Homo sapiens: one gene and its partners. The protein of the gene in region 1 interacts with the protein of each later gene in a biochemical or structural test. Each region holds a gene or a part of one and is shown in the gene's direction. Other genes may lie near its edges. The genes, in order: PRKCD, DAB2, AFAP1 and RASGRP3.

Region 1 (7,034 bases):
TGGGTGTTGGAACACTTTGAACTAAGACTTTGGGTGTGGACGTTTGTATGTGGGGGGGGCTTGAGGGATGCCACAAAACCTAAAGGTAAAATTTTAGAATCAATCAGAAATGAAGCTAAATAGTCAAATAAAATCTATCGAGTGAGTGGTTGGGAAGGTAGGGTTCCGTTTACAAAACTTCTGTTTGTAATCAGAGCCTTTCAGACCACCAAGGCTTCTCTGGGCTCCTGGAAGAGTGCGTGTGTGTACACGCAGCCCGAGTAGGGGGCCTGGGCTGTGCCCCTGTTGTCTCCTCTTGGTGTTAAGGGTGGAGTTATACCTGGGAGTCTTCCTTCTGGGCTGGGAGTTCTGATAATGGTCTGACCATCTGGCCCCCCACCTCTGCTCCCTCCCCAGAGAGCCTCCCGGAGATCAGACTCAGCCTCCTCAGAGCCTGTTGGGATATATCAGGGTTTCGAGAAGAAGACCGGAGTTGCTGGGGAGGACATGCAAGGTGAAGCTGGGTCCATTGCCCCATTACGGTTTTTATTCCCCCTGAGGCCAAAGAAAGGGGACTGTCCTCCCTTCCATTGTCAAGTGAGACATGGAAGGAACCACCGGTCCTGGGGAGCGAGCCCCTTCCTCTCTGAGGCCCCTTCCCCCAGCCTACCCCAGGCCCCGGGGGAGGGGAGTTGTGTAGACTGAGACCCCGATCTGAGGAGGTGCCATCTCTCGGGCAGACAACAGTGGGACCTACGGCAAGATCTGGGAGGGCAGCAGCAAGTGCAACATCAACAACTTCATCTTCCACAAGGTCCTGGGCAAAGGCAGCTTCGGGAAGGTGAGGGCTGTGAGCCGGGCACCTGCTTCCCACCCCACCCTGGCTTCTTCCCGCTTAGGTGGCTGAGGTGGGAGTCTGTGAATCGGGCTGTGGCCCCTGCCCCGTCCTCACCTGCTCAGCACCCGTGTCTCCCCATCAGGTGCTGCTTGGAGAGCTGAAGGGCAGAGGAGAGTACTTTGCCATCAAGGCCCTCAAGAAGGATGTGGTCCTGATCGACGACGACGTGGAGTGCACCATGGTTGAGAAGCGGGTGCTGACACTTGCCGCAGAGAATCCCTTTCTCACCCACCTCATCTGCACCTTCCAGACCAAGGTGCCCGGGCCTCCTGCCGTCACCACCCCATGCCACAGCCATGTCCCACAGCTCCTCAGCCCCCCTCAGTCAGGGCTGTGTCTCCCCTTCAGGCCACTTAAGGCAGGGCCATGCTTTCCCCCCTCATGCCTCCCAGGGCAGAGTCGTCCACCTCAGCCAGGGCCTGTCCCTGCTGTTTCCTGTTGGGGCTTGGCCCCAGTGGCCCTCAGTGAGGGAGCCTCCTGCCTATTCCTCACCCCTGCTCACCACCCTTCCCACCCCAGGACCACCTGTTCTTTGTGATGGAGTTCCTCAACGGGGGGGACCTGATGTACCACATCCAGGACAAAGGCCGCTTTGAACTCTACCGTGCCACGTACGTAAGGGCCATGGTGGGGAAGGGCCCAGTGTGGAGGAAGGGCTACTGGCTCAGAGCCCACTTCCAGTCTGCCCTCCATGCCTTCTTCCCTCTCCCTAGAAAAGCCAGCCTGGGCTAGAGCGGCAACTGGGGAGATGTGGGGGTAGCCTGGGTCGGCACCACACAGGAAGCCATGGGTGGCAAGTGAACTGCGGCTGGGTGCGCAGCGCAAATACTCTGGGTCCTGGCCGCTCCGTGGGCCACAGCCAGGGCAGCCTTGCAAATGGTGGTCCTGCATGACACAGGACACAGGACCCTGGTGCGTGGCCCCCAGACCTGCTTCTCCCCATTCACATGCCCCTTACCCCAAACTAACCGTGTATGTGTGTGTGTGTGTGTGCATGCATGCAAACACATATGTACATGCATGTAAATGCATACACTCTTAGAGAATTGGCTCACTGAGAGCTTTCCCTTCAGAACTTTCTGCCTGGGCTGCCAGCCCCCACTTGCCTGATACAAGATGTACTTGATCATGCTCAGGTGGTCCATGGAGTTATTTGCAGCATTTCTTGCTCCTGGAAGTGGGGTTGAGGGCCCGAGGAGAAGCAGAGGCTGCTCGGCAGAGATCCCGGAACACTTTATCCCTCTCTCTTGCCCAGGTTTTATGCCGCTGAGATAATGTGTGGACTGCAGTTTCTACACAGCAAGGGCATCATTTACAGGTGCGGGGGTGAGGGCAGCGGGGGCTCTTGGGAGGGGAGGCTCCAGCCCCATCATATCTTCTGAAATGCTCCAAGCAGGATCCCCCCAACTCCAGTTCCTTCTCTGCTGGAAATCAATCTTTAGCTGGGTATTTGCCTATGCCTCCCACCCTGGTGTTAGCATTCCTGTGGCCACCATTTGAGGCTGGCTCAGCTTCAGGAACTAGGAACTCACTGCTCATATTTGACACCATCGCCCCACCCATCCTTGGAGCCGTCAGTCTCGCTCTGAAGCCCCATCGAGTCATCTAAGCTTCTGCCAGAAGGGACTCCTTCCATAAAGTCTCATCTAATAAGTTATGATTCCATCCTATGGTGGGAACTGTACACCCACCAAAAAGGCTGAGGTCAGGCTCTGTATACTGATGTGGGATAATGCCAAGATATGTTGTTAAGTGGAAAAACAACCTGTGGGAAAGTGTATATCGAATATTAGCATTCAGCCTTTAAAACGTGGGAGGGAGACTGAGCGCGATGGCTCACGCCTGTAATCCCAGCACTTTGGGAGGCCAAGGTGGGCAGATCACCCGAGGTCAGGAGTTCGAGACCAGCCTGACCAACATGGTGAAACCCTGTCTCTACTAAAAAATACAAAAGTTAGCTGGGCATGGTGGTGGATGCCTGTAATCTCAGCTACTCAGGAGGCTGAGGCAGGAGAATTGCTTGAACCCGGGAGGCGGAGGTTGCAGTGAGCTGAGATCATGCCACTGCACTCCAGCCTGTGTGACAGAATGAGACTGTGTCTCAAAAAAAAAAAAAAAAAAAAAAAAAAAGGTGGGAGCGAGCTGCATGCTGCCATATGCTTGTCCACGCCTAGAATTGCTCTAAGGAGAGCCTCATGATTGAGCTCAGTGGAAGGTAGACTTTGTACTGTTTGCCATTTCTAGTTCCCATATGCATTAAGTATATACTCAAATGACTAATTACTAAATATAGACATGGTCTCTGCCTGTGGGAAGTAGACAAACCTGAACCTGGGGGTCACTTCTGCTGCTGACTGCTAGGGGACCCTGGGCGAGTGACATCACCTGTTTGAGCCCCATTTGGGCTTCAGGAAGTAGGGCAGTGTATGCCCAGCGTTTAGCACACAGTAGGGGACTTGCAAGAAGCACCTGTTTTTAGGATCTCTTTCTCCTTCTGCTTCCTTTTCTGTTTCTCATTCCCTTGTACCCTTGGGGACAGTCCTGGACTAATACGGCTGAAAATTAGGACATGGGGGGCAGGGTTGGAAGGAGAAGAAATGTCCCCTGCTGACTCTTACCTGTCCCCTGTCCTTAGGGACCTCAAACTGGACAATGTGCTGCTGGACCGGGATGGCCACATCAAGATTGCCGACTTTGGGATGTGCAAAGAGAACATATTCGGGGAGAGCCGGGCCAGCACCTTCTGCGGCACCCCTGACTATATCGCCCCTGAGGTGAGCCGATACCCTTCCAGCCCCCCGCTCAGTCAGGCACCTTGCCTCCCCACGGTGGGCCAGGGAAGGATTCCCAAGGGCAGTGATGTCCAAGCCAAAGCCCATAGGCTGAGGCGGCCTGGCTAGGCTTCGTGCCCAGGGGCCCCTCTCAGCCTCAGCACCTCAGCTCCTGCTGACCTGCTGCTCTCCCCACCGCCAGATCCTACAGGGCCTGAAGTACACATTCTCTGTGGACTGGTGGTCTTTCGGGGTCCTTCTGTACGAGATGCTCATTGGCCAGTCCCCCTTCCATGGTGATGATGAGGATGAACTCTTCGAGTCCATCCGTGTGGACACGCCACATTATCCCCGCTGGATCACCAAGGAGTCCAAGGACATCCTGGAGAAGGTGGAGGCCCTGGGCTGGGCTGGGCTGGTCTGGGCTGGGCTGGGGCAGGGGCTGGCAGACACTGGGCTTTGGGTGAGGAGCTTCCTGTCTCTGGAATGGCAGCCTCAGTGGTGCTGCAGTCCTAACATACGGGGTATTGCTCTCTCACCATGTTCCCAGGAACTCCTGTCTGAGTCCTGTGCATAGAATCAGCCTGACATGGTGACTAAGGGCCCAGGGTCAGGAGACAGACCCGAGGCCAAATGCTGGCTCTGCCTGGGACTAGCTGGTCACTTAACCTCTCAGAGTTTGTCTCCTTATCTGTAAAATGGGGCTATGAGCAGACTTGACTCACAGAGTTGTTGGGAAGAAAATAGAAACATATGATGCTCAGCTGTGGGCCAGGCAGATAGTAAATAATAAAAAGTTCCACCAGCAGAGTCGCAGATGTCCAGCCCAGAGCCTGTCATCTCCGGGGGAGCTGGGAGCACTGCAGGCCAGAGTGGCCTCCCTCAGCCCCACCGTTCCCCAGGCTGACTGGGGCTGGGGCAAGCCTGGCTTTGCATCCCTGGGCCTGCTGGGGATTTGCTGAAGCTCCAATTTCCCATGGCCCTTGGGTGCTAACCAGGGTCCCTGCTGGGTTGCAGCTCTTTGAAAGGGAACCAACCAAGAGGCTGGGAGTGACCGGAAACATCAAAATCCACCCCTTCTTCAAGACCATAAACTGGACTCTGCTGGAAAAGCGGAGGTTGGAGCCACCTTTCAGGCCCAAAGTGGTATGTGATCCTGCCCTGTGCTGCCTTCAGGCTGAGCTACTCCTCTCCTGCCCTCCCTCTCTCCTGCATCATTCACACGCTTTCCACCTCTCCCTTCTTCCAGCAATCTCCATAGCATGTTCAGTCACAGCCGCTGCCCTTGTATTCTCATCCTCTCCCTCCTGACTCAGTCATTCAGCACACACTGGGGACTGTGGATCCCACTGTATGCAGAGGACCCTGTTTTGGGAAATAGAGTTAAGACCTCACTTTATCGCTCCATTCAATCCATTTTCCAATACATATGGGGAATCCTGAGTCCCTGTTGAATGCAGAGCACAGTGCTGGGCTGCACAGCAAAGTGGGAGATGCAGTCCCAGAACCGGAGGAGCTCTCAGCTAGTTGGAGAGATAAGAAACTTGCACACCTATGACAATTTGTGATACGAGATGACAGTATAAGAGATGCCCCAGGACACATGATCCGTTGCTATTGAGTGGGTCTGTCAGCAGGAACCCAGGTGGCAGAGAAGAGGGTGGGTCTGAGAGGCCCCGTTGGAAGAAGTGAGACAAGGGACAGCTGGGAGGCATTCCAGGTGGAAGAGGGGCTGGTTCACTCACAGGCCCAGAATCTACAGGGCTACCAAGGAACCAGCCTGAGAGCAGAGGCAGGTGGGGCCACTAAGAAATTTGGGGCTGTGTGGCCCCTCTGTGACCACAGTTCTTCCTTCCCACTCCCCTTCTGTCCTTTGATTCCCCTCCTCCACCAGGGCACACAGTTCCCACTGGGCAGCCTGTGTAATGCGCCCCACATTTGTGCTTTGAGGCTACAGAGCACTTCCCCTACACCAGGGACCTCAAACTCAGACGTGTCCTGGCTGAGCATGTAACTGACAGGCTAGGCCAGCTGCAAGAAAATCACACAGCCTGCTTTCAGTCTCACTTTTGATAGATTTCCTTCTCCGCACTAAGAAACACAAAGCAGGTGTGATGTACCCCTTGTCAGTGGGGCAGGGGCTGTCCAGGGGGCTCTTAGCACCAAGAGTGGGCAGGAAGTGGGCCCAGGGCTGCTTTAATCTGCCAGTTTTCAAAAGAAGCTGGAAATCTGGATTTTTAGGTTGCATTGCTCAATTTTAAAATATAAGTTCAGGCCGGGCACAGTGGCCCACACCAGCACTTTGGGAGGCTGAGGCAGGCAGATCACCTGAGGTCAGGAGTTCGAGACCAGCCTGGCCAACATGGTGAAACCCCGTCTCTACTACAAAAAATACAAAAAAAATTAGCCGGGTACGGTGGTGCACACCTGTAATCCCAGCTACTCAGGAGGCTGAGGCAGGAGAATCGCTTGAACCCAGGAGGTGGAGGTTGCAGTGAGCCGAGATCGTGCCACTGCACTCCAGCCTGGGCAAGAGAGTGAGACTCCATCTCTAAATGAATAAATAAATAAAAATAAATAAATAAAATATAGGTTCAAATTCCATTAAAACCCAGTACAAGCCGAAATGATTGTACTTGCCAGTTCAGTTTGGCTGAAGGGCCACCAGCTTGCGGTCTTTCTATATTACCATCCCATCATATCCTCAGGAGCAGAGAATCAGCAAATTTCTCCTGTAAACAGCCTGATAGTATATATTTTAGGCTTTTCAGGCTTGATGGTCTCAAAGCAGGCATAGACAGTATGTCAACAAATGGGCATGGTTGTGTATTACAAAAGCTTTATTTATGGAAAGTGAAATTTGAATTTCACCTAATTTTCATGTCATGAAATATTTTTCTTTTGATTTTTTTTCCAACCATTTAAAAATGTGAAAGCCATTCTTAGCTTGTGGTCCCCACAAAAACAGGTGGTAAGTGAGCCTCCCTGGGCTGTGATTCGGTGGTCTCTGAGCAAGAGGCTACCACCTCTCCTAACCCAGGCCCAGAGCTCCCTGGTCACTTTCCTCATCCTCTTGGGGAAATGGCAGCCTCCTTCCCATGGGGCTCCTTTCAGGCTGCTAGGGGAGGCTCTGTCTTCTGTTCTGGGTGAGGACAGCTCTGGCCTGGCCCAGCCCTGCAGGGACTCCAGCCTGGGGTGTCTGGAGGGCCATTCCCTAGGTCCTGTTCGCTCACCCCTGCCCTCTGCTTGTAGAAGTCACCCAGAGACTACAGTAACTTTGACCAGGAGTTCCTGAACGAGAAGGCGCGCCTCTCCTACAGCGACAAGAACCTCATCGACTCCATGGACCAGTCTGCATTCGCTGGCTTCTCCTTTGTGAACCCCAA
Region 2 (7,034 bases), on another chromosome or scaffold:
TTTCATTCTTCATAATTTTTGTTATAGTTCTGAGGATAAACTTTTTAAAGTACTAGACTAGATTATCCTGACAGGTCCATCCTAACTCTGAGGTCCTTTTGATTTGTAGTCAACTTTGTGCTCTCCTCCATTAGTGATGTTTTCTCAAATAAATCAGTATCTGAACACTTACTTCCCAAGTATAAATGACATTCAAACAAGTAATATTCAAAGAGAGCAAAGCACTCAAGATATGAAGTGGAATTCCACTGGAATAGGCAAGGAAGTACTGCCTATATAATCTACTTCTGTAGACTTCTAGAATGTTCTAAAAAAGGAAATGGAAAACAACATGGATAATCTTCAGTCTCATTTTTATTAGACTTTATGAAGTCTAAGAATTTTTTATTTATAGGAATTCAAGTTTTAGTTAAACTAACAATAAAGTAATAAATACCATCAAAATATATACTCTCTGATAACCAAAAGAAGGCTAACAGATCTAATTATGTGCTGGTTAGGCTTTGACATGTTCTTATCTATTGACTCTATAGTCATAGGTCAAAAATAGATTTATCTCTACTTGGTAAAGCCAGCATGTTTAAAAATATTCAACTCTTTCAACAATTGCTCTGAAATATGTAAAGAGAGAAAGAAATCTAAATTACCTAGACTTTATTATTGGTCCTAGATGGTTGTCACTCCCCTCAAATTTATACAGAAAAGTTTTATGAGTTTCAAATAATGCTCATGTTGCAAACTATGTGGTATCCCCTAGAACAGAATTTTTATTGGCAAGCCCCTTGAGCATTATCCTTCCACACTGCATCTCAAAAAAGGAAAAGAAAGAAAAACATAAAAACCCATGTTCTGCAACTTTAACAACCACTTGAAAGCACAGTTACTATGGAAAGAATATAAGACATGATCTGTGATCAAGGAGATTAAATCTGGTACAAGGGATGGGATCAGGATACAAAGCAGGAGTGTCACTTATGTCCTTGTGTACATGCCATAAGATAACACGGGTGGGCACAGGGCAAGTGCAGACAGAAAAATCGATGCTAAAAGCTTTGTAAAGAATCTGAATTTGAGTTGGGTCTTTGAAGTGTGTAGGAAAATAGATCATAGTTGGGCTAGAAACAACGTGGGTCTTATTGTGGATCATTTGGAAATTTGGCCTAAGGAGGTTTATTTTAATATAGGGAGCCAGCAGTAAGCCACTTAAGGCTTTGAGTAGAGAAGTCCTCAGTCTGACAAACTGGAATGGTTAGGTGAGATTAGCCACCCAGAGAAGAGCTAGGCTATGGAACTCAGGATTTATGTCCGATTACTGGAGCTCCCTACGAGCAGGTTCTGTAACGCACTGCCGTGTCTCCAGTGCGTGCGGCTCAGGTGCTCAAACAGTGGCCAACTGGAGGCAGTGTTGACAGTTCGACAAAGAATGAATGAGGCGCTGACCAAGTGGGTGGATGAGGAGTCTTTGGGCTCTCAGTTGTAGTCTGTGAACTACACTTTTAATCTTGGATTAATAACAAACCCAGCCTGAGGAGAGCCTTATACATTTTACTTATAGGGTGACTATTCAGAAGTCTAACATTGTGGCTCCTGTTTGGTGTCCTAAGAACTTCTTCTGAAGTATTTGAAAACGAGAACTCTACCAGCTGTGAACACTCAACTGTTCTAACCCAGAGGTGGCTCAAAACAAATAAATAAATATTGAAATCACAAGCTTTTGTAATACATTTTATCCTACCTTTTGATTGTATAAAGATCCCTAGATTAATAGCTCTTCCAATCCATTTCTCTGATTAAATTTTTTTTTAATTATAAGCTCTTTCTTGTGACAAATTCTTCTTTTATAAAGAGAAAGCCTGGCTTTGGCTTATAAAAACTGTATTTTTATGCCTCACAGTAAAGGAATCCAAAAGATAGATTACCATTTAGGTCTGATTTTGCTGTCTCTTTTGTGGCCATGAAATAGGACTTAAACTTTCTAAACAATTGGGTATTTTTTTTTCTTTTAAAAGCCAAGGAGTTCTATTTGAACCCTTTTGTATTTACTAGTTTGCAAATTTTATATTCCCTTGAAGTTGTTTATTTTCCCCAATGATCAAAATATTTAGTATTCTGCTCAGGGTAATGCAAGATAACTACTATAACTTGCACTTCAGCAAGGCATTTTTTATCATTTATATTCTTCTCTGGGTAGCATAGTTAAGTATTTAATGGATCAAAGTCAAGCAGAAGGAAGTGATGTCAGTATGAAAGTTCTGTTCTAGGATGAGTTATAATTCTGTCTTTTACTGGAATAAAGACATGTCGGATTCATCAAATTTACTGCTTTTAAGCTGAGAATTTTTTATCAAACAGTTGAAAATCCAAAAAATTAACACACCAGAGAAATGATAGAGAGGGGATAGAATTAGTAGAGCTACATATTTGATATGTCTTTCAAATTAACTCTTAAACCCATGTCTCTACCTTGTACAATAGTCCCCCTTTATCTGCAGTTTCACTTTCTGAAATTAAGTCTGTGGTCAACCTTGGTCTGAAAATAAGTGAGTACGGTACAATATAATATTTTGAGAGAAGAGAGACAGAGAGACCACATTCAAATAACTTTTATTACAGCATATTGTTATAATCATTCTATTTTATTACTTGTTAATCTCTTATTGTGCCTAATTGATAAATTAAACTTTATCATGTGTATGTATATGAGAAAAATACTGTATATAGGTTTTGGCACTATGTGCCATTTCAGACATCCACTGTGGGCCTTGGAACATATTCCCTGAGGATAAGGAGGGACTACTGTATATAAATTAAAGATCAGTTGTTGGTTGACTTTAACCACTAAATAGATGAGATTACTGTCACAACACAGGCAACTCTAAGCAATGTTATGAAAAGATGTACAAATAGGAGATCTTAATGTGTGATTGACTAAATTAGATCAGTATTGAGTGTCTCTTTCAGAGGACATAGACAAAAAGGGTAAGCCCAGAGGAGAGACTGGGATGATGAGGATGAGATCCTACTTGACTATCAGCTTCAGCAAGAGCCTTAAATATTAAGAGACATACCTGAAGGCCGTGATATAAAAGAAAAGCCTCTCTCCCACCTCTAGAGGAAAGAACTGGACCGATTTTAGGGAAATGCATTTGATCTTAAATTTCATCACAGCCAGAACTATAAAATATGAATGTATTAGTCGATGAATTTTCTCATTTAGAGAGATGATCCTACATGACTCTGGGGGTACAATAGAGAGGACTGTATGTGTATAGGTAGGAAGCTGAGCTAAGCTTCTGAAATCACTTACTTTCAAGCTCAACATACTTTGATAATCATTTATAGTGACTCACAATCAATTCCCTTTAAGACTTTCAAAGTCACAAATTGAAACAATGCTCATAATGAATTAAGCCAGTCTGTATGTGTGAACCAGGGTGAGCAGAGACATGAAGTAAGCAACAGTAAGATTTCACCTAATGAGGTTGAGACTTAAATAAAAGGGCATGATATTGGGGAGGAATAGAAAGGACCTAGTCTATAGCTAGGGAGTAATGGACTACGGGGGTTGATGGAAGGAGGTAATGATCAACCGATTTATCAAGACCAAATTCAAATGGAAATTCTGATAATCCTAGTCATCTTATGTAATTTTCTCATTTGAAGTCACAACATGGACTAACACTTTCTTTTTTTTTCTTTCCAAATGTGATAGGAAAGCAAAGATATCCTGTTAGTGGATCTAAACTCTGAAATCGACACCAATCAGAATTCTTTAAGAGAAAATCCATTCTTAACAAACGGCATCACCTCCTGTTCTCTTCCTCGACCAACGCCTCAGGCATCCTTCTTGCCTGAAAATGCCTTTTCTGCCAATCTCAACTTCTTTCCCACCCCTAATCCTGATCCTTTCCGTGACGATCCTTTCACACAGCCAGACCAATCGACACCTTCTTCGTTTGATTCTCTCAAATCTCCAGATCAGAAGAAAGAGAATTCGAGTAGCTCGTCTACTCCGCTGAGTAATGGGCCCCTGAATGGTGATGTTGACTACTTTGGTCAGCAATTTGACCAGATCTCTAACCGGACTGGCAAACAGGAAGCTCAGGCAGGCCCATGGCCCTTTTCAAGTTCGCAAACCCAGCCAGCAGTGAGAACTCAAAATGGGGTATCTGAAAGAGAACAGAACGGCTTCTCTGTCAAATCCTCCCCGAACCCTTTTGTGGGAAGCCCTCCCAAAGGACTGTCCATACAGAATGGCGTAAAGCAGGACTTGGAAAGCTCTGTCCAGTCCTCACCACATGACTCCATAGCCATTATCCCACCTCCACAAAGTACCAAACCAGGAAGAGGCAGAAGGACTGCTAAGGTGAATTGTCTTCTCCACATATCCATTAGCAGAGTGCATGTTCGGTACCAAAGGGTGGTGTGATGCAAGCTCTCTTTCCTGCTGCTCTCGTAGTTTCCTGTGTTGCTGTGAAATAGAAGGTGGGATAAGGCACTTTGGTTCTCCAGGAGTACTTTCCTCTAACTGCCACCGTTTTTAAGCTTCTCAGCAGTGTTTTTCACACCCTGCTTTCCGTGTGCATGTCTTGTCACTTATGATTAAACTAAACACAAGTTTTTCCATTTTTAATGCTGCTATGCTTCTATACCTCTGGTAAGTTTGATCATCGTGTTCTGGGTTGGGAGGGTGAGAGTTCTTGTGATTCCCTTTGTACTTCCCTGACACTAACACATGCCCTGCACACCCATCATGTTGCATCAGTGTCCATGGTGGTGGTATAAAATTCTCGAGCTTATCTCCTCTTTTAAATACTGAGTAAATACATAAGCTTTTTCTAAGCTTATGTATTTACTATTACCACTATGATCTCAGCTTTATTTAAGAGCAATTTAAAATGCAGTTCCCATAGGTGTCTTTTTTTACCTCTCCTAAGAATATACAGGCTTGCCTGGATTAAGACCCTATGATCTCTATGTAGACTGACTTAAAATCCAATGGAATGAACAAAAATATTTAGGATGCTTATTGGTAGTTGCCCCTTTTACACACTTGCTCCCCCAACTTCAAGCATTTAGCGATGAGACCAGACCAATGTGAGTGTGTAAAGGAATATAGTAGATTTCACTTTGCAAGTCCTAGGTAGTGTCAGACACTAAGACTCAGTAGTCCGTCCGTTGTAGGAATCTGTGTCTTTTTTTGGAGGACTCTTTTTCTGTAGTAGTAGTTGTTGTTGTTCATCTGTCAAGAAAAAAGTTTTCCTTTTTGTGGCTCTCAAATTGGGGTATAGGGTAGGAGACAAAATGAGGCTGTATTTCACTGTTAGTGAGTAACTAAGGCTTCTCCCTCCCTCCCTGTCCTGTCAGTCTTCAGCCAATGACTTGCTTGCATCAGACATCTTTGCTCCTCCCGTCTCAGAACCTTCAGGCCAGGCGTCACCCACAGGACAACCTACAGCCCTGCAGCCCAACCCTCTGGATCTCTTCAAAACAAGTGCTCCTGCCCCAGTGGGGCCCCTGGTGGGTCTAGGTAGGTGCCTAGAGATAAAATTAAGTATGACTCTTTTGCTTTTGCTCATAAAATGATGATGCATCGGAAGAGATTTCATACTCCCAGAGGGTTTTACAGCATAAGATTTGAGCATCCCAGGGAGCCCTTCTCCCACTTCTACTATACAACCCCACATCCATTTGATATTCTTGACTTGTAACTCACATTTGGCTCCTCGAGGCAGCATGAGACAAGAAATTCATTTTCAGTATTGTACTTACTTGAACCAACTGGTCATGGTTTCCTGAAAGACAATTGTAAGGGATTCTAAACTCAGACCAGCTTCAGTAGCAAAACAGGGTTGACATAAGAGAGGCTTGTCTGTCAACATGCATGTCTTCCATGTCTTTTGCCATAATAGATCGAAGGCCTATGTCCTTTCAACACATAGCCCTCTTAGAAGGAATATATGCCCAAGAAGGATGTAAGTTAAGTCTGAAGCAAGAATAAGTCATAGAGTGAAAGTCCTAGGTTCTGGGCCCAGCTGTGTTCCTAGGTGTATGGTAAGGGTAGATCAGGCACACATCCTGATCAGTCTCTGAGCACTTCTGCCATAGGAGCTCCTTGCCAATATTTTGGCTAGCTTGAGTGTTTTACTGAAGCTAGAACATAAGTCCTAGAAAGCCAAAGTTGAAAAAAGAGAGAAATAAGGGAAGAGATGGAATTTTATCAGACAGCTAGTATGCATTGACGCTCTTAATTCCTAAATGTGTCATTAGCTTGTGTGAGCCGCTGATCACTCTGTGGTAGGACAGTGGGAAAGTCCACTTGACTGAGGGCTGGCCTTGCTATTCTTAGTCCATAGCCTATAGTTCTTTTCAGACTCCATGGTACAGTTTTCAGAAACCCTGACAATAGTTTTTGCTGTCCTGCTATGGACTCTATTTTTCTTCTCTTGGCACCTCTACAAACTCCAAATGGACTCTGGCTTGGGAGGTGGAGGACTGTAGACGAGGAAGGACTCTCCTCTCCTTCGGTAAAATCTGACCAGGGATCCTGGCTTTCTCTGCCTCCTGCAGTCAGTCATCAGGATCCTTGTTTTGTTTTCCTCTCTGTCTCTGTTGTTTTCCTACAAAGGAAAATAGTTTGGTTCTTTTACAAGAAATCTGTTTAATCATATCTAGAATAGGGTGGCCAGAGGAGGACTGTTACTCAACTGCTGAGTGGCAGAAATCCGTGAGGGTATGAAAAGCCAGCTTGTCCCAGGTCTCTGCTCGCATTTACCCCATCAAGAGGCTCTCTCTAAAGACTTCATGTCTCTTGGGGGCTTCCCCCTTTCTGCGTTGCTCTTTTCCTTGCACCCCCAAGTGGAGCTGGTTGGTACCCTTCCCTCACAGAAGACCAGAGTGCTTGCAATGCAATGTCTGCAGCGAGATCACATCACAGAGCTTTTTATCTGATATCAATGCCCTTAAGAATTTTTGCAGCCAATATTTAACAAGTCAGCCTGAAAATACAGCTGGACCCTATAACTGTTTATTTA
Region 3 (7,000 bases), on another chromosome or scaffold:
CGCCTGTAATCCCAACACTTTGGGAGGCCGAGGCAGGCAGATCACGAGGTTAGAAGATGGAGACCATCCTGGCTAACACGGTGAAACCCTATCTCCACTAAAAATACAAAAAGTTAGCCGGGTGTGGTGGCACATGCCTGTTGTCCCAGCTACTCGGGAAGCTGAGGCAGGAGAATTACTTGAACCTGGGAGGCAGAGATTGCAGTGAGCCGATATTGTACCACTGCACTCCAGCCTGGGTGACAGAGTGAGACTCCATCTCAAAAAAAAAAAAAAAAATTACCGCTTGTAAAAAATTGCATCACATGTTGAATGACCTATAGAGGAGCTATAGTTCTAAGGAATATGGTAATTAATTCTTTCAAACAGTAAGGCCAGGTGCTGTGGTTTACACCTGTAATGCCAGCACTTTGGGAGACTGAGGTAGGAGGATCACTTGAGCCCAAGATTAGAGACTGCAGTGAGCTATAATCATGCTACTGCACTCCAGTCTGGGTGACGGAGTGAAACCCTTTCTGTAAAAAATAAAAAGGTAAATAAATAGTTTAAAAATAAAATATTAAGCTCCTTTCCAATTTATCTGTTTGGTAAGGTGGGAATTGGATGTGCCTGAGTTTGTTAAAGCCACGTGTCTCTGTAGAAAGGAGACACAATTTTCTCTGCTATTCCTAGTTATTTGGATGATTATAGGGATTAAAAATAGCCATTTGGTCAAGTCGTGAGCTACTGAATTACAATTTTTGCTTCACTCAGTAGGATTTTGCCTGTATTTTGATTTGCATTCTTAATTTAGGAAAAGTTCTTTGTTATATGCTCCATGTACTTTGTTCTTTTGGGGAATGTGATCTTAGGAGAGGGCTTCAAAACGCGACCAGATTTTCTTTATGGTTTTCTAGATTTTATTAATGTTTTAATAAAACTTAACTAGTTAATTCTGCTTCTGTGTCGAGGTGTTTTTCATTTACAGCAGGCTTGATTTTTATGTGGATTAAATGAAAGGGAGGGGATGCATGGGTATGGAGAACACAGAGGATATATTTTTGAGCTCTGCATTTCAGAGTTCTTTTCTCTAGCCCTGGCCGGGGTCCCAAACAGGGAACTTAATTCGCTCTATCACTGAAGTATACCCTTGCTTTGATGCCATTGGTATTGTATCCTAGAGATTTGCTGTGGCTGCTAGGAGTGTTTCATAGTAAGGACTGATGCGACTTCTCTTTTGTCAGCTTATGAGTCTGTAAGCCATCTTGTTCCCTTTAGTATTATCTGCCTGGAACTGGAAGGTCAGAGATGAAGTTTTCTTAGATTATAAGTCTCAAGTCTTTGCTGTCTACCTTCCTCTCTCTCCCATGTCACCTGCTGTTTTATTTTCTGTTTTTCATTTTAATGTTTTTATTGTATAGGTGTCTATTATTTCAGGCTACCTCAAAACAGTTTTGGATATTGACAGGATATAAGTATGAATAAAATGTGAAAGATAACTTTAGTTCTTTTTAGCAGAGGACTGGAATTCGATATGTGGCCCTACTAAAGCTTTTGTTAAGTCCAAGTACTTTTCTGAACTTCAGTTCCCTTACCTGTAAAATGGAGTTAATTGCTAGTAACACCTGTTCTGCCTAACTCAGGAGATTGTTTTGAGGATCAAATGAAATCATGAATGTAATGGAATTTTGTAAATTTTAAATAAAATATTGTATTACCTAAGATTTAAAAAAAAACCCATTAAGAATGGAATGAATCTGAGTTTTCCTTTGAAATCCCAAATGTTTAATGTACAGAGAAGTCTTAATGTGTCTGTTGGGGAGCTTGATTAGGGTTTTTTCTATCTTTAATTGGCCAGTATTGTTTTATATTTTAGCATTTTTGGGGAACATCAAATTTGTGTTTCAGTTATCATTAATATTTTGCAAAGGTATTGAATGTGCATGATTTAGTCTTTAACAATCTCTTCAATTATTTACATTCCCGTGTAAAAAATGAAGTAATGAATGTCCACGTAAATAGCATTCCCATGCTTTAGCGAAGCGTAATTTCTTGACATTGCAGTTTCTAAGTGCCCTGTCTTGAGGCTGGGAAAACTAAAGGGCAGTCAGAGGTCAAGGTCAGCAAAGCATCACATTTTGACATTTGAAATCCAGCAGCAGCATCACAGTGAACCCCAGTCCAGCACCCAGGAAGTTTCTCTGCACCTGCCTCTCCTCCAGCCACCTCAGAAGCTGTGTGTGCGGTGTCGGGCCTGCTTTCCTCTCTCTCCTCTGCCTTTTCTTTCTCGTCACCAACTTCTCCTGAGTGCCCCTGATATCCCAGACAGTGGTAGTGGGAGTACAAAGGCTAATAAACCCGGCCCTGGTCCTCGAAGAATTTATGTTTTCTGTGCACATACTAAGTTATACTGTCATATATAGTGTTGACAAACACGGATACAGATTTCCTGTGAAGTGCAGGGGCACCGTTCTAGAAGCAGAGATGCAGAAGTGGGACTCGTGACTCACACGTGGAGAGCTGGAGTTCGTGGTCCAGTGGGAAAAACCGACCTGGACATCATTTCAGTGCAGCAGAGTGAGTGCTGGGTTGGGCTCCCTCGGGGCATCTGGAGCCGGGTTAGTCTGGTGTTTAGTCTTCTGTGTGGTACTTAGAGCTTATCAGTAAGACAAGCATTGGGAGGTTTCTAAGTGAAAGGAAAGGCAATCACTTACCTGAAACCTAAAATTTGTAGGTGTTCTGGGCCATTTATAATTCACTGTATCTGTTCTGTCAGAACAAGTCTATCATCTGTTGTTTTGGATGGAGTGTGGCCAGCCCTGCCTTTGGATGTAAGGAAATCAGGAAACGCTTGTCAGATGTCAACACCGTGCCAGACACTCCGCTAGGGATTTCCACGTAAATCACTATATTCATTTCTGTTGCTGCTTTAACACATTTCCACAAATTTAGTGGCTTAAAATAATTGAAATTGTATCATCTCACAGTTCTGTGGGGTAGAAGTCTGACGTGGGTGTCACTGGGCAAAAATCACCATGTGGGCTGGGCTGCATTCCTCACTGGAGAATTGTTTCCAAGCACTTTTGGCCAAATATAGTTCCTTGTGGTTGCAGGACTGAGGTGTCCCCTTGCTGGCCATCTGTTGGGGGCTGTCCTCAGCTCCTGAGGCCTCTATCTGGTCTTTGCATGTGGTCCCATCAGCTCAGGACTAGCTAGGCCAGGGACCTGGTCAGGCCCTCCAATTCCCCTGGGCGCATTTCTCTTCTTCACTCAGAGAAAGTTCTATACCCTTTTTTTAAATATTTTTTTTGAGACGGAGTCTCGCACTGTTGCCCAGGCTGGAGTGCAGTGGTGTGATCACAGCTCACTGCAACGTCTGCCTCTGGGGTTCAAGTGATTCTCCTGCCTCAGCCTCCTGAGTAGCTGGGATTACAGGTGCTTGCCACTGTGCCCGACTAATTTTTGTATTTTTAGTAGAGATGGGGTTTCACCATGTTGGCCAGGATGGTCTCGATCTCTTGACCTCGTGATCGGCCCAACTTGGCCTCCCAAAGTGCTGTGATTACAGGCGTGAGCCACCGTGCTCGGCCAGTTCTGTGCTCTTAAAGGCTCATGGGATTAGATTGGACCTCCCTGGTTAGCCCAGGATACTCTTCCTAAGGCCTGTGGCAAAGCCCTTTGGCCATGCCGTGTGACGTAGTCACAGGTCTCGGGGGTTAGAATCTCCCACCGCGGTTACCAATCCACTTACTACAGCAGCCTGGGAGGTGGTTTTCAATGCCTCTGGTTAACAGATACCAATTTTTTTTTGCAAATCGTCAGGAACGTGAAGATCCCCCCCCTTTTTTTTTTTTTTTTTTTTTGAGAGGGAGTCTCACTCTGTTGCCCAGGCTGGAGTGCAGTGGCGCGATCTCGGCTCACCACAACTTCCACCTCCCAGGTTCAAGGGATTCTCCTGCCTCAGCCTCCTGAGTAGCTGGGACTACAGGCACGTGCCACCAAGCCTGGCTAATTTTTGTATTTTTTGTAGAGACAGGGTTTCACTGTGTTGGCGAGGCTGGTCAAAAACTCCTGACCTTATGATCTGCCGGCCTTGGCCTTCCAAAATGCTGGAATTACAGGCGTGAGCCACTGCCATGAAGATCCTTCTTAAATGGAAAATCTGTTCCTCTGACTTGATGTGAGGCTGTTGGTGAGGTTTATAGCAGTGGAGACAGGTCCTTCAGAAATGGAGCTAAACTTTGTGTTTTGGAGTATTTTGATGGCCTGCCCTGATTACATAAGTTTTGCTAAGAAGTCATTAGAGTAATTCCTCTATTGGAAGAAACACCCATATGGGGAATTTGGGACCTTGCCTTTTCAAGTTTTACACAAAGAACTCTTCATGGGGTGAAAAGTACATGATTCCAGGTCCATTTCTAGAATGGAAACAGCTGAATCAACCCAACAGCGATTCACATTCCTGAGTTTTAGAGAATCTGATTGTTTCAAGGCTGAAGCAAAAAGCCCAATAAACAATGTTTGTACCTTTATTAATAGTTAGGAATTAGGTGCATCCTGTGGTCAAGAAAACAACTGATGGTGGTCACCAAGTAGTTTAAAACCAAGCAGGACCTCGTTTTATCATGTGGGTGTTTTTGATTTTTTTTTATGAAGTTTTTTTTCCTGTGCAATAAATGACAAGCTCTGACTTGAAATACATTTCCTTTAAGAAACCAGAATCTAGGGCCAGGCGTGGTGGCTCACACCTGTAATCCAAGACTTTGGGAGGCCTAGGAGGGTGGATCACGAGGTCAGGAGATCGAGACCATCCTGGTTATGGTGAAACCCCATCTCTACTAAAAAATACAAAAAATTAGCCGGGCATGGTGGCGGGTGCCTGTAGTCCCAGCTACTCAGGAGGCTGAGGCAGGAGAATGGCGTGGACCCTGGAGGTGGAGCTTGCAGTGAGCCAAGATCGCGCCACTGCACTCCAGCCTGGGCGACAAAGTGAGACTCCGTCTCAAAAAAAAGAAAAAGAAACCAGAATCTATAATCCTAAGGTTTTTAACCTGGCTTTCAGAAATTTATGAACTCCTCAAAATCCTGTGCAAAAATTTTGTGTATATGCATCCATGTGTGTTTATGGGGAGATGATTTATAGCTCTCCATACATTTTCAAAGTGGTTGCATTCCAGAAAATTTTAGAACACACCACTTGGTCCTGGTGTGGTGGCTCACACCCGTAATCCCAGCACTTAGGGAGGCTGAGGCAGTAGGATCCACTGAGGTCAGCAGTTCAAGACCATCCTAGGCAACATAGCGAGACCTCCACCTCTACCAAAAAAAAAAAAAAATGCTGGGCGTGGTGGTGCACACCTGTGATTCTAGCTACTCAGGAGGTTGATCACCTGATCCCAATAATTTGAGGCTGCAGTAAGCTACAATTGCACCACAGCACTCCAGCCTGAGCAACAGAGCAAGACCCTCTCTCTGAAAAACAAAAACAAAAAACCATATCACTTAATATACTATTCTTGTTGGTCAAGTATCAGATTTTGTTTAAAAATTAAATACTCATTTTTAGCAAAGGTGTACAGGCATACAGTTCTAAGAGTCAGAAATTAACAAGGCTTAGAACAAAACCCAGCAATTCCCTACCTTACCCTTTTCCACCCTGATCCCTGTTCCTTGGAGGTTACTGCGTTTATGTTTTAGCTCATTCTTCTAGATTGTGTGAAAGACAGGGAGATGTCCTGTGGAAGACAAGGACTCAGGTGGCTTACCCTCCCCGCTCCTCCTGTTGCCCACGTTTTTCTCCCCTATCCTCTCAGTATAATTATTGTGATAGTGAGGCCAGGCACGGTAGCTCATGACTTATCCCAGATTTTTGGGAGGCCGAGGCAGGCAGATCACTTGAGGCCAGGAGTTGGAGGCCAGCCTGGCCAACACAGTGAAACCTCGTCTCTACTAAAAAATACAAAAATTAGTCGGTTGTAGTGTTGCACACCTGTAGTCTCAGCTACTCAGGAGGGTGAGGCACAAGAATTGCTTGAACCTGGGAGGTGGAGGTTGCAGTGAGCTGAGATTGCACCACTGCACTCCAGCCTGGGCAACAGAGGTAGACTCTGTCTCAAAAAAAATTATTGTGATAGTGGGATACATAGTACAATAGTGTATATATTTAGTATTCATCCTGGTTTTTGGCCCAGAGCTTCTAAAACCCTTGTAATTTCCTGATAGGAACATCATTGGTTATAATATTTGGTCTTAGGTTTCAATTCCTGACACAAGAGCTTCTAAGACTTTTGGAATCTCTGGAGTGATAGGAGTGTCTTTTGTATGATAATGAGATGACAGGTGGCTTTGGGCCCCTAGACAGGTTCAGGATTAGGGCTGGTTGCCAGAAAGACCGAGGTATGATTAAAGAGTTGGACATACCAGCCCTACCCCTACCTCCGGGGAGGGGAGACGAGATGGGCTGGAGATTGAGCTAGCCACCGGTGGCCAATGAGAGATTGAGCTAGCCACCGGTGGCCAATGACTTAATCATGTCTATGTTATGAAAACTCCATAAAACCCTCTAAATATTGGGTTTGGAGAGCTTCTGGTTTGGCGAACTCATTTGGTGCTGGGGAGGTGGCACTCCCAGGGGCATGGGAGCCCCGACCTCCCTGCCCCGTGGTGTGCCCTGTGCGTCTCTTGCATTTGGCTGTTCCCGTGTTCTATTCTTTGTAATAAACCATAAGAGTAAGTAAGTGCCAAGCACTTTGTGTGTCACCTCTCTTACTTTTTCAGCAACACTGTGTGGCAGATAATGTCCTCATTTTGCCGGTGACAAAATGAGATTGATGCATTGAGTAACTTGCTCAAGGTCACATAATAAGAATTCAAGCTCTGACTCCGAAGCCTGTGCTTTTAACCAGCATGCTGCATACATGGCCTCTTTATTTGTTAGGATTTTTGGTGTGTCTAGGTCCTGACACCAAGTTGACCGTTGTGGCCTGAAGCTATTATAACGGTCCTGCTGAGAACAGAGCCG
Region 4 (7,267 bases), on another chromosome or scaffold:
GGGGCTTTCAGTCCTAGCGTGTAAAACATACATTGAGATCAGAGACAGGCTTTTTGGAGGCAAGGTGATTAATTAGGAAATCACCGCAGACCTTCAGTAATAAATCAGAACATATGAGGGGCGGTAAGAGTGCAAGATGAGAAGAGAGGATTTTCACACCTAAGGGGCAGATAGCGGAAGAGAAGCCCAGACCTGAGGATGAAGGAGGTAGTAGTAAAATTTTATAGACGCCATGGGAGAGCTTTTCAAGGGGTGGTTGGTCAGTTGGGACAAATAGAGCCAAAAGGTCAAGTAAGATGGCTCACGCCTGTAATCCCAGCACTTTGGGAGGCTGAGGCGGGCAGATCACGAGGTCAGGTGTTCGGGACCATCCTGGCCAACATGGTGAAACCCCGTCTCTACTAAAAACATGAAAATTGCCGGGCGCGGTGGGTCACGCCTATAATCCCAGCACTTTGGTGACAGAGCAAGACTCCGTCTCAAAAAAAAAAAAAAAAAAGCAAAAAGTGTCGGTTGCCTTTGGTCTTTGGGGACTTGGAAAGAGCAGTTTCAGTGAAGTGAGGGAAAAAAAGCCAAGCCACAAGTAGGTTGAGAGTAAATGGGATGTGAGATGGTGAAGACAAGTATTTTTTCAGGAGTTTAGTTGTGGAGGGAATGCAGGAGTTAGGGCAGTAATTAAAAGAGCAAGTCTGGCTGGGGGCAGTGGCTCACGCCTGTAATCCCAGCACTTTGGGAGGCCAAGGTGGGCAGATCATGAGGTCAGGAGATGGAGACCATCCTGGCTAACATGGTGAAACCCCATGTTACTACTAAAAATACATGTCTCTACTAAAAATACAAAAAATTAGCTGGGCGTGGTGGCGGGTGCCTATAGTCCCAGCTACTCAGGAGGCTGAGGCAGGAGAATGGCTTGAACCTGGGAGACGGAGCTTGCAGTGAGCCGAGATCGCGCCACCACACTCCAGCCTGGGCAACACAGTGAGACTCCGTCTCAAAAAAAAAAGCAAAAAATCAGAAAGACTGTTGTTAGGATATAAAGACAATGTGAGAACGTGAGCATGTTTAGCTAATGAGCGCACGCTGAGAGCAAGAGAAGGCGTGGTTGTTGTCGAGAGTCCTAAGCAGGTGGGAGACACAGGGTGAGACACAAAGCCGAGGTAGGAGGTGGCCTCTTGACAGGAAGAGGGCACCTCTTCTTGAGTCGAAGACAATGCTTGGAACTGGTAGGGAGTGTGGGCAGAAAGATGGGATCTCCCCCATTTCTTTGCAAGGCTGTGTTATTGTAGAACCTTTAGTCACACTCCTGGACTCTGACTGAAAGGGTCCTGGGTCTTGGCCTCTGTGTTAACAGTTTGCTTCATAGGGAGGATTGAGGATCCATCCCTTCCTCTCCTGGCTATAGAACTAGAAAAGAACCTCTACACCAGTGGTCCCTAATGTATTTGGCACCAGGGACCAGTTTCATGGAAGACAATTTTTCCATGGACCGGGAATGAGGGGATGGAGATGATTTCAGGATGAAACTGTTCCACCTCAGATCATCAGGCATTAGACTCTCATAAGGAGCATGCAGTGTAGATCCCTCGCGTGCACAGTTCACAATAGTGTTCATGCTCCTATGGGAATCTAATGCCACAGCTGATCTGACAGGAGGCAGAGCTCAGATGGTCATGCTCCCTTGACTGCTGCTCACCTCCTGCTGTGCAGCCTGGCCTCTAACAGACCATGGACAGGTACCTGTCCATGGCATGGGGGCTGGGGACTCCTGCTTTACACTTATGATGTAGTTTGGATGTTGTGCCCACCCAAATCTCATGTTGAGATGTAATTTCCAGTGTTGGAGGTGGAGCCTGGTGGGAAGTGATTGGATCTTAGGGGCAGATTTCTCATTAATGGTTTGGTACCATCCTGTTAGTGCTGTTCTCATGATAGTGAGTGAGTTCTTTTATTTATTTGTTTATTTTAAGACAGAGTCTCACTCTGTTGCCCAGGCTGGAGTGCAGTGCAGTGGTGCGGTCTTGATCTTGGCTCACTGCAACCTCTGCCTCCCAGGTTCAAGCACACCACCACGCCCGGCTAATTTTTGTATTTTTAGTAGAGACAGGGTTTTGCCATGTTGGCCAGGCTGGTCTCAAACTCCTGACCTCAGGTGATTCACCCTCCTCAGCCTCCCAAAGTGCTGGGATTATAGGCATGAGCCACAACACCCAGCTGATAGTGAGTTCTGGCAAGCGCTGGTCATTTAGAAGTGCCCCCTGTCTGTCTTGCTGCTGCTCTGGCCATGTGACTCATCTGCTCCCACTTTGCCTTCCACCATGATTGTAAGTTTCACGAGGCCTCCCCAGAAGCCGAACAGATGCCAGTATCATGCTTCCTCCATAGCCTGCAGAACCATGAACCAATTAAACCTCTTTTCTTTATAAATTACCCAGTCTCAAGTATTTATAGCAATGCAAGAATGGACTAATACAACTTAACTTTCCTGAGGCTGTTGTCGCTGTTGGGCATTGAAGAGTTTCTAGAAGTCCCTGTTTCTTTATGTGGCATGCAATGGATCATCAGAATAATTAACCCAGTCAATGGTAAACAAAGTGATGGATGGATGCCATCAGATCACAAAAGTTTCTATTACTGTAAATACAAGGGGGTAAGTAAATCAAAATAATGTTTCAAATCCTCAGTAGGCCTCTTTTTCTGTTTCTAATTGAAGATTGTCACATCAACACATAAACAAAAATGCCTGTGAGGGAAATGTGTATTTTATGCATTGCATTTTTATATCTGAAGTTTATTTCTATTACTAACTTGAAATGCTGAGGAAGGGATTTGTTTTGGTGCTTACAAAATTCTCCCATTTGCTCTTCGGACTCTCACAAGTTGACAACAAATTACTGCCCTGATAGTATGGTGAGACTGAGGGTTTTTTGTCTTTTTCTCTTATTCTAGAAAACACTGTATCCTCTATATGGAGGGAAATTTCTGGTTTGATTAACACTGTAAATAATTATGAGACAAAGCCTAAATATAAAAGATTACTCACACAGGCTCTTACACTGAGTAAGATATTATGTGTTAAAAATCAGGGTTAATAGTTTAACAGGCACATTATGGTTCAGAAATCCCCTGGGGGACTTCAACCATCTTTTCTGGATGTTCACTTTGCCAAATAGGCTGCCTCTATGTCATATCTCTACCTGAAGGGCAGGCTCAGACACTGATTCGGGGAAGTGTCACCCTTACTATACCAAGAAGTCAGACATCCAAGGTCAGACACTACGTAAAGTCAGATACTTCAAGGGCTTTCCTTGGAAGGGAGGATGAAAAGGGAAGGGTGGGAACATCAGCTCAGGTGAGACATATGAATTCAACAAAACATCAGGGATGGTTTGCCACGTTTGCGAGCAGCACAGAAAACGGCAGTTTGCTCCAAGTTCCCAGCACACCAAAGGGGGCAGTAGTGCGTCTGTAAAGCGCGTTGTCAACTTGGTGATAATTTCTGTTTGCATTCACACTCGCCGGCTGATAATCTCAGCTGCTCGATGCAATTCAACAGATAACAATGCGGAAGTTTGGTCTAAAGCTACCTGAAATCACTTCCAAGAGCTCTTCAGATAAAGCTGCCTTTGATAGTCTTCATTAACCCCTCCCATATTTGCCCCTCAGCGTCCCTTGGCTTAGCAGCCCCGGCCTTTGAAGTCCAACCTAAGCATTCTTAGATGGTGAGTGAGGGTCTGCCTTCCCCAGCACCAGCCACCTAGTCAGGCTTGTGGCTCGTCTAACAAACTGGAGCCTGAGATTCTGAGAAAACGAAACCAAACAGTTGTACTCCGGGGTTAACACAGAGCAACTTCCACCTGCTGTGCGAGTTGGTGATCCTCTCTCTTGCCGTTCGAGAGCCCCAGTGAAACTTGAGTGAGATGAGAGAGCATGGAGCCTGCCAGTCTCCCCCTCTGCGCACACACACACGCAAACACATTTAACTTTCCACTTGCAGTGACCTGCCCTTCAGTGTGACTTATCAGCTGTTTGGCTTTTGTCACTAAAGGAAAACAAATTGTGGAATATCCCGCTCTGCATGCTCATGAGATGGCTGAGCCAACTCAGGGGTTATGAGGTGGTTTGCGAGTGAGGAGAAGAATGATCTTCAGTTTCTGACCTCCTGGCACGGTGGCGGGCGGTATTTATCAGGAGGTACATGTGACTGGTTAAGACTCAGAGCCCCAGCTTGAAGGAAACAGCTGCTCTCGGCGTGCTCCGGCACTTGGCAGCTGGACAGGCAGAGTGCTGATGTGAAAAATACCACGACAAAACCACCCTAGTAAGTAACTGGAGAACTTTCCTCTCTCTCTCTCTCTTTCATTCCCTCTCCGTGTGTGTGTGTGTGTGTGTGTGTGTGTGTGTGTGTGTTGCAAGCCACCAACAACTTTTGATTTTGATTTTGGTTTCCCTCTGGCACGATAGAAGGAGATATTTTATTTGTACCTGTTAACAGCCATTGGTGTTTTCACAGCCCTTTTTTAGAACCTGTTATTTTCGGCAACGTGTCTTGTAACTTTGAGGATGAATGGGGCATATGGCTTCATTCCTGTCTAGGAAACAGAAAGTTTGTTTCCCAGTGTTCAAGATTTTTCTAGTCCATGGTGTTTAGGTTCAAAGTCAAGTTCAGGTTATGAAGTAGAGACTTCATTGAAGTGAGTTGATGACTAGATTTGATTTTAATCTGTTTCTACCACTGAAACCTGAAAACGTAGTTGTTTAAAGTAACTTGTGAATTTATTGTATGGCTGATTTGATTTTTCCTATTCAATTTTTGAGAATATCTCATTTAACTGTGTAGAACTGTCTGCAATATAGAAGACTGACAAAATAATATTTAGATTCACATTAGAAATCATATTTAGATTTCTTGCATGGTTTCCAACTAATTGAAAGCTGTATTTTATAGCGACTTTTTTTCCCCCCAACAAGCTAATTCACCTTCATTACTTTAAAATGTTCAGTTGCCCCTGGTCTTCCTTCACCTTCATTACTTTAAAATGTTCGGTTGCCGCTGGTCTTCCTTATTTTAGTGTTTTCGTGATACTCAGGCTGTTTTTTCCTTGTTTATGACCTGACTGGGAAAGTGCTGCCTGCAGCTGATGATTAACTCTGGGAGGCCTGGCATCCAAATTACGGAGAGAACCGGCTCCTTCTCAGGTTCATTCAGCAGTAATGGTGCTTGCGCTTGGGCGAGCAGCAAAGCAGGCACCATGCTGGAACTGAGCTGTTGTTCGGTGACTTTTGTCCTTCCTTGGTAGTCACCAGACAGAATGCTTCAGAGGAAAGGCAAAAGGGGAAAAGAGAGAGGGCAGAGCTCTAAACTGATGACGTAAAGCTCTGAAAGTGACAGGTCTTTGAATCAGAGGCTGCAGGGAGATAACCAAACAGGTTCCTGTTTCTGGAGATCGCGTGGATCTTGAGGAGGGTGGGCAGAGAGGGGCTGTTTTTATTTGAAGTCTCACCAAATAGTTGTTTTGCTTGTGATAAGCCTAGGACAACCTGGAGTGCGCTTGTTTCCTCGTGTGACAAATGGATTCTCATACAGGCTCAAGCTATACGGTTTTCTTTCGCCCTCTGCCCCCTGCCATGAGGGAACACTGTTCTCTCCCCACCCTTACCATCCTTTGTTGTTTGTGGAGAATGGATTAAAAATGACCCAGGGCACGGCACTTCTGCGATCGAGTTTCCCTCAGCACAGTGGGTCTTGAGTACCGCACCAACCAATGTTCTCTGATGGAAGCAGTTTCGGATGCCCTGTCTAAACAAATGGCTAGTCTGACATTGAGAAGTTCTCCACCTTCTTTTCCTTCAAATGTAGAAGAATCCACAAAATGTAGAGTGGCCAATGAGGAAAAATAGTCCCAACTTCTCTGTTCCTCGGTATGGCATTTGTGTGAGGTCCTTGGGTCAGCCCGCGGCCATGTGGTCTGTGACTTCCCTGTCTGACTGCTGGGGGAGGGGGTTCCTCCTGAGTCATTCTTTAGGGAGTTTGTTCCTGGTATAGTTTCAGATTTTCCACAGGTTGATAGTGGAAGAGAACCCTCTGGTGAAATTGTGTCTCCGGAATCATCGAGCCTCCCATAATAAAATGGAATGTCTAAATGGGAGCAGTTGAATTATCCAACTGCTGTATTTTTGAGAGCCAACAGGCTCCTTTGAAAAACCCATGCCTTTTCAAAATATTAATAGCAAAATAATAAAAAATAATGATTTTACTTGCAGATAGTACATCCATTGACTCAAAGACTTTTTGACCTGGATAGGAATGATAGAATGTGCGATTTAACTCTTTCGTATCAAAGATGAGGAAACTGTAGCAAATTTATCGGAGTTACGGTGCAGAGCCAGAAGAGAGAGCTCAAGGCTTCCATCATAATTTCAACGCTAATAACAATCCCTTACTTTTATTGTGCACTTACTCTGCCAAATGATGCGCTAAACAAGTGTATTTATTTTCATAGTCTCCTCACAATAACTCTATGTGTTACATATTATTATTCCAGTTCTATAGATAGGAAACTGAGGTTCTTGACCATACGTAACACAGACAGGAGGGACACCCTTAGTTACTTGACCATATGTAACACAGACAGGAGGGACACCTGGATCTGACTGTAGAACCTGTATACATTAAAAAATAAAAGTGGAATCCCACACATTTAAATGTAAAAACTCACAACATGCAAATGAGAGTATTTCCAGCACAATATGATTACACACACAATGTGTGTTATGCCCTTTTCGAGCTCTCCATGACAGGAAGGGCTAGGTTTCCCCCTGTGACAGTCCAAGCCCAAGCTCTCTCTATAGGATCGCTGGCTGGTGGCATGTTTTTCTCTTTGAAAATAGTTCAGTGACGGTCTTGATGTTGGTAAGAACAGCAACCGGGAACTTTGTTATTAACCTCCAGCACACGGCTCCCATGCCCCTTCTGGCCTTTCCCTCCAGTTTTCCTGTCACTCCTTTCCTTTGGAGGACAGCCACTCCACCCATGCCCCACCCCAAATAGCTGGCTTAGTGTTGATAAAGCTATTATCAGACCCATCCCCTTTGCTCAGCCTGGAAGGTTGGTTGTCCGAGTAGGTTGTTGATGAATAGAAACCATGCACTCTGCCACTCTGCGCTGTTTTTTTGAGCTGTGGGTGTAAGGGGTGGGTCACGGGGCAGGGGACTAGCTGGCAGTGGTGAGGGAGGAGAGGTATGCTTTTCTTCACTGCCTGCACCTGCC

Evidence for each region.
Region 2: of the proteins of PRKCD (region 1) and DAB2, one has a biochemical effect on the other in vitro, tested with the Homo sapiens proteins (one study listed by BioGRID).
Region 3: the proteins of PRKCD (region 1) and AFAP1 form a complex in vitro, tested with the Homo sapiens proteins (one study listed by BioGRID).
Region 4: of the proteins of PRKCD (region 1) and RASGRP3, one has a biochemical effect on the other in vitro, tested with the Homo sapiens proteins (one study listed by BioGRID).

What each region holds. Positions count from the first base shown.
Region 1 is NC_000003.12:53,185,208-53,192,241, forward strand, and holds part of PRKCD (protein kinase C delta type), read left to right. Parts: intron 1-396; coding exon 397-493; intron 494-719; coding exon 720-820; intron 821-959; coding exon 960-1,133; intron 1,134-1,396; coding exon 1,397-1,488; intron 1,489-2,132; coding exon 2,133-2,195; intron 2,196-3,512; coding exon 3,513-3,651; intron 3,652-3,850; coding exon 3,851-4,039; intron 4,040-4,665; coding exon 4,666-4,794; intron 4,795-6,900; coding exon 6,901-7,034.
Region 2 is NC_000005.10:39,379,950-39,386,983, reverse strand, and holds part of DAB2 (disabled homolog 2), read left to right. Parts: intron 1-3,712; coding exon 3,713-4,366; intron 4,367-5,367; coding exon 5,368-5,530; intron 5,531-7,034. UniProt on the Homo sapiens protein: Adapter protein that functions as a clathrin-associated sorting protein (CLASP) required for clathrin-mediated endocytosis of selected cargo proteins.
Region 3 is NC_000004.12:7,929,862-7,936,861, reverse strand, and holds part of AFAP1 (actin filament-associated protein 1), read left to right. Parts: intron 1-7,000. UniProt on the Homo sapiens protein: Can cross-link actin filaments into both network and bundle structures. May modulate changes in actin filament integrity and induce lamellipodia formation.
Region 4 is NC_000002.12:33,472,390-33,479,656, forward strand, and holds the start of RASGRP3 (ras guanyl-releasing protein 3), read left to right. Parts: upstream 1-4,259; 5' UTR 4,260-4,318; intron 4,319-7,267. UniProt on the Homo sapiens protein: Guanine nucleotide exchange factor (GEF) for Ras and Rap1.